Linked DNA regions of Homo sapiens: region 2 is linked to region 1. A link means that fine-mapping ties the variant in region 1 to the expression of a gene that starts in the linked region. Tissue or cell type: whole blood. Region 1 holds a variant in brackets; the other region holds the start of a gene. All regions are shown on one strand. Distances are between the middles of the regions.

Region 1 (4,318 bases):
CTGACCCAGGAGGATCACTTGATCCCAGGAGTTAGAGGCTGCCATGAGTTACAGTAGTACTACTGCTGCACTCTAGCCTGAGTGATAGAGCGAAATCCCATCAATATCTCTTTCTCTTTTTTTTTTCCTAAAGAGAAAGGCTGGGTGCAGTGGTTCATGCTTATAATCTTAGCATTTTGGGTGGCTGAGGCTAGAGGAGTCCTTGAGCCCAGGAGTTTGAGACCAGCCTGGACAACATGGTGAGAGCCGTCTACAAAAAATAAAAAAAAATTAGCTTGGTGTGGTGGTGCATGCCTGTGGTCCCAGCTACTTTGGGAGGCTGAGGTAGGAGGATCTCTTGAGCCCAGGAGGTTGAGGCTGCAGTGGGCTATAATCATGCCACTGCACTCCAGCCTAGGCGACAGTGAGTCCCTGTTTGAGAAAAAAAACCTAACTGAAGTATTTTGTGTTGTGAAAATATAGTGTAAACATAAAACAGAATACTGTATATATATATTTTTTTTCTTAAAAAAAAAATCTCAGCTGGGCACTGTGGCTCATGCCTATCTATAATCCCAACACTTTGGGAGGCCTAGGTGAGTGGGTCCTCTGAGCTCAAGAGTTTGAGACTAGCCTGAGCAACAATCTTGTGAAATTGAGCTTTTCTTAATATATCTACAAAAATGTAAAGTGTAATACTGACGTATTTTAAAGCAGTTGTCAGAACTCACTGAAAAAATTATTATGTTTTTATAATTTTTTTTTTTTTTAGAGCTGGAGTCTCGCTATTGTTGCCCAGGCTGGTCCCAAACTCCTGGGCTCAAGCTATCCTCCTGCCTTGTCCTCTGAAAGTGTTGACCCAAAAGGGCTGGGTGTGGTGGCTCATGCCTGTAATCCTAACGTTTTGGGAGGCTGAGGCAGGAGGATCACTTGAGCCCAGGAACTCGAGACTAGCCTGGGCAACAAAGTGAGACCCTGTCTCTAAAAAAGATTGAAAAATAAAAAAGAGGAAAAGAAAGATTATTACTGTTGAAGAAGGAGATGCATTGAGGAGATGGATACACCTATTTTAAGGGAACTATCATTCAACGTTTTCTCTTTTTTTTTTTTTTGAGATGGAGTCTCGCTCTGTCGCCCAGGCTAGAGTGTAGTGGCGTGATCTCGGCTCACTGCAACCTCCGCCTCCTGGGTTCAAGCAATTCTCCTGCCTCAGCCTCCCGAGTAGCTGGGACTACAGGTGCCTGCCACCACACCTGGCTAATTTTTTGTATTTTTAGTAGAGACAGGGTTTCACCGTGTTAGCCAGGATGGTCTCGATCTCCTGACCTCGTGATCTGCCCGCCTCGGCCTCCCAAAGTGCTGGGATTACAGGCGTGAGCTACTGCACCCAGCCACACCTGGCTAATTCTTATATTTTTAGTAGCGACAGGGTTTCACCATGTTGGCCAGGCTGATCTCAAACTCCTGACCTCAGGTGATTCTCCCATCTCGGCCTCCCAAAGTGCTGGGATTACAGGTGTGAGCCACTGTGCCTAGCCTCATTCAACATTTTCTAAATTTATTTTCAATTGTTACGTGATTTGGTGGAACACCTGTAAATACGTTGAGCATAAAATGTTGTCATAGCCAGTTCTAACAAATGTGGTGGTGTGATTGAACTGGATAATACTATTTTGGGATGTTTTAGATGAGTCACAGTTCATAAGCTATCTCTTTCTGACACCTTTGAATTTCTTCCCAGTAAGTATGACTGACCTCATGGCAGGAATTCTCACCAACTGGATCAGTCTGGTGTAATGGAAAGGGTGGGAGTTGGAGGACTGTCACTTTAACAGTCTGTTTTCATTTGATTGAATAAACCGTTTGGAACGTGAAGTTAATAAGAAGGGGCTTACAGTTGGAGTTGGACTTGATCACTGGTTTTATAATTATTTCCTGGGGAGTACCTGTAGCATCTGAGAAGAGGGAGGGGAGGAGTAAATGCAGAGGGCTAAGAAGAATCTGTTGTCTTCAAGTTTCACTTTGAACAATTTTTCTTAATAGTCCTCTCTCTGAGTTTCTAAAAATGTTCTGTGGCAAAGGAATAGGAGAAAGCAAGCTGGGCATGGTAGCTCACGCCTGTAATCCCAGCACTTTGGGAGGCTGAGGCGGGCGGATTACCTGAAATCAGGAGTTCTGGACCAGGCTGGTCAACCTTGTGAGATCCTGTCTCTACTAAAAATACAAAAAAAATCCCAGCTATTCAGGAGGCTGAGGCAGGAGAATAGCTTGAACCTGAGAGGCAGAGGTTGCAGTGAGCCAAGATTGTGCCACTGCACTCCAGCCTGGGCAACAGAGTGAGACTGTGTCTCAAAAAGAAAAAAATGAAATAGGAGAAAACTATTGAATTTGGCAAATGTTATGATCTCTCTTACTGAACATTTTATGATCCGTATGTGAGAATGGTATTGTTTTGCCAAAATCATGCTGATTCTAGGA[C/T]TTTGTGGAATGGATGAGGGAGAAAACAGATTAGCATATAGGTCTTGGAAGCAAGAATAAAAGGATGGACTTACGTGAAAGAAATCAGCAGTCGTAGTCACTTGAGTTGTCATCATCCATCAGGTCCAATCTAGCAGGGAGGGAATAGCTTGAGAGACTTGAGACTGAGGCACAGATCTCTGTAGAACATGGGATTTATCCTGGCAAATACAGTGATCAAATTTAGGAGATTGGCTTTGATATAATACCATTATTTACCATATAATCTATCTTCACATTTCACCAGTTGTCTCAAAAATGTCCTTTATAAGATCCACACCAACACCACATATTTTATTTAGTTATATATTTTTAGTCTTATTTAATTTGAGATAATTCAGCCTGTCTTTTTTTTTTCTGAGATACTGCCTTGCTCTGTCACCCAGGCTAAAGTACAGTGGTATGGTCATAGCTCACTGCAGCCTTGACCTCCAGGGATCAACTGATCCACCTGCCTCAGCCTCCTGAGTGGCTGAGACCACAGACACATTCCACCACGCCTGGCTTTTCTTTTCTTTTCTTTTTTTTTAGACAGAGTCTTGCTCTGTTACCCAGTCTGGAGTGTGGTAGCGCGATCTCAGCTCACTGCAGCCTCCCCTTCCCGGGTTCAAGCCATTCTCCTGTCTTAGCCTCCCAAGTAGCTGGGATTACAGGTGTGCACCACTACACCCAGCTAATTTTTGTATTTTTAGTAGAGATGGGGTTTCACCATGTTGGCTAGGCTGGTCTCGAACTACTGACCTCAAGTGATCTGCCTGCCTTGGCCTCCCAAAGTGCTGGGATTACAGGTGTGAGCCACAGCACCTGGCCAAATTTTTTAATTTTTAATTTGATAGAGATAGGGTCTCACTGTGTTACCCAGGCTGGTTTTGAACTCTTGGACTGAAGAAGTCCTTCTGCCTTGGCCTTCCAAAGTACTGGGATTGCTGCTTTGAGCTACCACGCACAGCTGATTGACGTTTGTTTGTTATGACTTACATTTTTGTTGTTGTTTTTTGAGACAGAGTCTTGCTCAGTTGCCCAGGCTGGAGTGCAGTAGCACAATCTTGGCTCACTGCAGTCTCCTCCCCTACCAGGTTCAAATGATTCTCCTGCCTCAGCCTCCCCAGTAGCTGGGATTACAGGCATGCGCCACAACGCCCAGCTAATGTTTGTATTTTTAGTAGAAACTGGGTTTCACCATGTTGGCCAGGCTGGTCTCCAACTCCTGACCTCAGGTAACTGTCAGCCTTGGCCTCCCAAAGTGCTGAGATTACTGGCATGAGCCACTCCCTCTGGCCCATGACTTAACATTTTTGAAGCATGCAGACAAATGTTACATTTGTAAAAATTTCTTTTTTTTAATTTTTTTGAGACAGCCTTTCTCTGTTGCCCAGGCTGGAATGCAGTGGTACGATCCTGGCTCACTGCAGTCTGCCTCCTGGGTTCATGCGATTCTCATGCCTCAGCCTCTAAAGTAGCTGATTAACAGGTGTGCACCACCATTCCCAGCTGATATTTTGTATTTTTGGTAGAGATGGGGTTTCACCATGTTAGCCATGCTGGTCTCAAACTCCTGGCCTCAAGTGATCTGCCCGTCTCGGCCTCCCAGAGTGGTGGGATTTCAGGCGTGAGCCACCATACCTGGCCTCAAATTTTTCTGTGTTATTGCTTATAGTTGTAATTTGTTTATTGTCATTGCTGTGTACGGGCTGATACATTTTTTCTTTTTCTTTTTTTTCTGGAGATGGAGTCTCGCTTTTGTTGCCCAGGCTGGAGTGCAATGGCATGATCTCAGCTCACTGCAACCTCAGCCTCCCGAGTTCAAGCGATTCTCCTGCGT
Region 2 (4,131 bases), 830 kb before region 1:
GGGTTGCAGGTAGGCACTGGCCTCGGGCTGTGCCCTAGGCTGTGTTCCTCCCAGGAGGCCAGAGCTGGGGCTTCAGAGGGCCACACTCCTGCTCGTGAGTCTCATAGAAGCTCCAGACGTGGAGTCATTCCAACCTTACTCCTACCTTCTCAACAGCCTCTCCCAGCACCCTTTGAGAGACCCTCTCACAGCAGCCTGTCCTTTCTTTTGGAGGCACCTCAATTCTGATGAGGTTTGCCTGAGCACCCACCCTCCCAGCTGGGCCTCCTGTCTCCCCTAAGACTGGCCCACGTGTGCACATATGTCTGTACCGTACTGTCCATGCCACTGGCCTGCTCTTGCCCGCCCTGGCTGCACGGGAGGAGGTGACAGTCTTAGGGGGAAGGGGCTGCCTGTGTGATAACATACCTGGTTCTCTGCAGCCCCCCACCTGGAGCACACCTTGCAGGGATGGGGGGTCCTGGGACATGGCTGAGGAGACCCTGACCTTGGAATAAGGTCATAGCACTATGCCCCAGGATAGTTTGGGGGGTCAGTAATAAGGGATAGAGCCCCAGCCTTCCTTGGGCAATAGGAAAGCAGGCAGCATGGATGGTCTTCACTGCCTCCAGCTCTGGCCACACCAGAGTCCTCGGGCTGTGGAGGAGTCCAGCCAGTGCTGTCCCCATATCTCCCTGTGGATCCCAGGGGAGGCTGTGGGGCCGGGCATATTAGAAGGGGCCCAGCAGCCTTGGTGAGTATAGATGTGCTTTCTGGGCTGCCCAGAGTTATTCAGGATTAGCAGGAAAAAAAGGGGGAGCAGGACCCAGATGGGGGCCTGCCCTTCTTAGCAGTGCCTCTCTGCCTTAGTGTCACCCATCTAATGGAGAGATATGCATATACAGAGCCCCACCTCCTTCGGACAGTGGCCCTGGCGTGGTGTGTGTTGGAGGACTGTCCACAGCCTCAGAAGCGAAGCTGGGGGAGGGTGTGAAGTCAGCCTGGGTAAGGGGACAGGAGTAAGGTAGGGGGCAGTTATGAAGCTGGAAGCTACAGGTACCATGAGGGCAGTGAGGAAAGGAGGAAGGGGCCCAAGGGGACCTCGGCCTGGTAGGGGAGATGGGTGGCAGGGACCTACAAGAAAAGTAGATGGAAGGAGAGGATGCCTGTGGGTGAGGACATGTAGGTAGGGGGACCTGGCCTGGGGCATGGAGGGCTCGATTCCTGAGAGATGAGCTGTCACTGTGGGTGGTCCCGCCCTCCACAGATGGGCGGCCCCCTCCCTGCAGGCACAGCTGGATTGCATCTGCCTGTGACATGGTAGGGGATGTGGGACACTGGGATGTATGCATAAGCATGACACAGGTTCTCTCCTCCTTCCGGCTTATCCCCTACAAAGAGGGGGTGAGTTACTTGGATCCAGGCCAAGGGGACCTTGGTTTCCCTAAGACCGGCCCAGAGTCACTCATTTGCCAGGGCTTCTTGCCTGTCAAGGAGATCCGGGTGGGGCCCAGGAGGCCCACCAGACAGATGGCTGAATCACAGGAGTGGCCGGCGGGACCCATGGCCTGAGGGCTTGTCTGGGCACCCCCACTGGATTGGGGGTGAGTCATCCCCAACTGCAGCCCCACCCCCCACGGCGCTGCTGCCTTGTGGCTCTGCAGGAACCTGTCCACTCCTCAGCCTGGTCACTGTGATTGACCTAAAGCAGCCAAGACCTGTGACCTTAGATGGAGTTAGGGGTACTCCCTCAGCATCTGCCCATGCAGAACCTTCTGGGAAATTCCCAGAAGCCACGGGGGGTCGGGGGGTTTATAGTTAAGTGCGTCATATCGTTTGTCTGGGGGAGGGGTGGGGGGGGCGGCGACCTCTCAGGGATATGGGTGAGGGCGGGTGCCTGGGTTCCCGCCTGCCGCTCCGCCCCCCGAGATCAGGGACTTTTCTCTGCTCTGCCCGAGAGACTGCAGCGGCGGCGGCGGGAGCGGGCGGACGCGCAGGCAAGACCAGGACTCGGGCTGGAGGGGCGCTGGGCTCGGACCTGCCAAGGCCACGGGGGAGCAAGGGACAGAGGCGGGGGTCCTAGCTGACGGCTTTTACTGCCTAGGATGACGCTGCGGCTTCTGGTGGCCGCGCTCTGCGCCGGGATCCTGGCAGAGGCGCCCCGAGTGCGAGCCCAGCACAGGGAGAGAGGTGGGCACCGCAAGGGAGGACCCGGCCCGGGGCACTGCACCGTGCCACCCTCCGCTCCACTCGGCCTTCATCCCCAACACCCCCCGCCCACAACCCAGCCAACTCCACGACGCCCCGCGGATTCCTCCTAATTCTGGGACTCCCCGAACCCTCCGCGATCGGTGCTGGGTTCCCTAAACCGCCTCCTATCCTGTTCCTACCCAAATTCTGGCTCCCTGGATGCGTGCGGGGTCCCCTGCCTTATGCCAATCCACGCCGGCCCCTAGAGGCTGACCTCAGTCCCAAGTCCACACCCGTGCTGGCGACTCTCCCTCCCCCGCACACCCCCAACCCTCCGCGGGAGTCTGCTCTGGGACCCACCGAGCTCAACTCCCTCCAAGGCCCTCAGGCTCAGGCCGATTCGGCCCTGGTTTGCATAAGATGAGGCCTACTCTCCCCACCATCCCAAGTCCCAGTGAGGCCACCGTGCGGGTAGGCGGGTGGTTGGCCTCCCAGAAGAGGCCCTGATCTCTCCTGCCCGCCCCAGTGACCTGCACGCGCCTTTACGCCGCTGACATTGTGTTCTTACTGGATGGCTCCTCATCCATTGGCCGCAGCAATTTCCGCGAGGTCCGCAGCTTTCTCGAAGGGCTGGTGCTGCCTTTCTCTGGAGCAGCCAGTGCACAGGGTGTGCGCTTTGCCACAGTGCAGTACAGCGATGACCCACGGTGAGTAGGGGCCCTGGGGGCTGGGGACCACGAGATCCCCACCAAGACTCCTTCCCCAGAGAGGGAGGAGACCCTGGAAACCCCAGGCCAGGTCTTTGCAGAAACAAGTTTTGGGGAACCTAGAGACCCCCTAGCCAGGACCTCCTTTGGAGACAGAGGTAAGGATTCCCTAGGTAGAACCTTCGTGCCCTGAGGCACCTCCAGGCTACTGCAAGACAGGAAGGTGCAAGACAGTGAGGCTGTGTTTTCTGATCTGGAGATGGGGAGCCCAGGAGGGGGCCCCCACGCCTGTTGGATTCTCCACGTTCTAGCCCTCTAACCCTTGCAGCCGTTCACCAGAGGTGCTCCATCTGGCCAGCATCCACTTTCCTACATCTGGACCCCTCCTCCTGCAATTATTTAATTAAGCAGCATCTTGTTCCCCACAGACTGTGAGCCCCTAAGGGCTCCTTCAGGTCTGCCCAGGCCCACCTGCAGATGGTGCACAAAGGAGCCCCTGGGGAGTTTGTTAACCTGGGGGTTCCAGAGGCAAGTGGGTGTGGAGAATGACAGAACGAAGGGACCCCTCAAGAGAGCCTGATACCCGTAACCCTCACCCTAGAGGCCTCCTCAAGGCCAGGGCCAGAAGAGATCCTGAGTCCTAGCCTGTTGCCACCCCTACCCTCCAACAGGACAGAGTTCGGCCTGGATGCACTTGGCTCTGGGGGTGATGTGATCCGCGCCATCCGTGAGCTTAGCTACAAGGGGGGCAACACTCGCACAGGGGCTGCAATTCTCCATGTGGCTGACCATGTCTTCCTGCCCCAGCTGGCCCGACCTGGTGTCCCCAAGGTGATCCCTACCCCTACCATGCCTCCCAAGATGACCCCAAATGAAGTGTCCAGGGGAACCGTGATTTGACCCCTGCACCTGTCCCAGGTCTGCATCCTGATCACAGACGGGAAGTCCCAGGACCTGGTGGACACAGCTGCCCAAAGGCTGAAGGGGCAGGGGGTCAAGCTATTTGCTGTGGGTAAGGACCGAGCAGGAGTGACAGGTCAGCTGGGGGGTGGGGGCAGTCAGAGAGCATGTGGGTGACTGAGTCCTGATGGGTCGTCACTTCAGGGATCAAGAATGCTGACCCTGAGGAGCTGAAGCGAGTTGCCTCACAGCCCACCAGTGACTTCTTCTTCTTCGTCAATGACTTCAGCATCTTGAGGACACTACTGCCCCTCGTTTCCCGGAGAGTGTGCACGACTGCTGGTGGCGTGCCTGT

What was found. PIP is the estimated chance that this variant, and not a neighbour inherited with it, causes the effect.
Region 2: it holds the start of COL7A1, and the variant in region 1 is the best candidate, but not a certain one, in a credible set for the expression of COL7A1 in whole blood (TOPMed, PIP 0.53).

The regions. Positions count from the first base shown.
Region 1 is chr3:47,759,839-47,764,156 of GRCh38, reverse strand. The region is part of intron 2 of SMARCC1 (SWI/SNF related BAF chromatin remodeling complex subunit C1); the gene reads left to right. Among named protein-coding and RNA genes, the nearest start is that of SMARCC1, 20 kb to the left of the region's middle. The variant C/T (reference allele first, on the strand shown) is at 2,458.
Region 2 is chr3:48,593,113-48,597,243 of GRCh38, reverse strand. It overlaps COL7A1 (collagen type VII alpha 1 chain), which reads left to right and starts at 1,915. Exons shown (of 119, transcript NM_000094.4): 1 at 1,915-1,976; 2 at 2,084-2,169; 3 at 2,696-2,876; 4 at 3,548-3,707; 5 at 3,795-3,888; 6 at 3,981-4,131. The coding sequence starts at 2,085.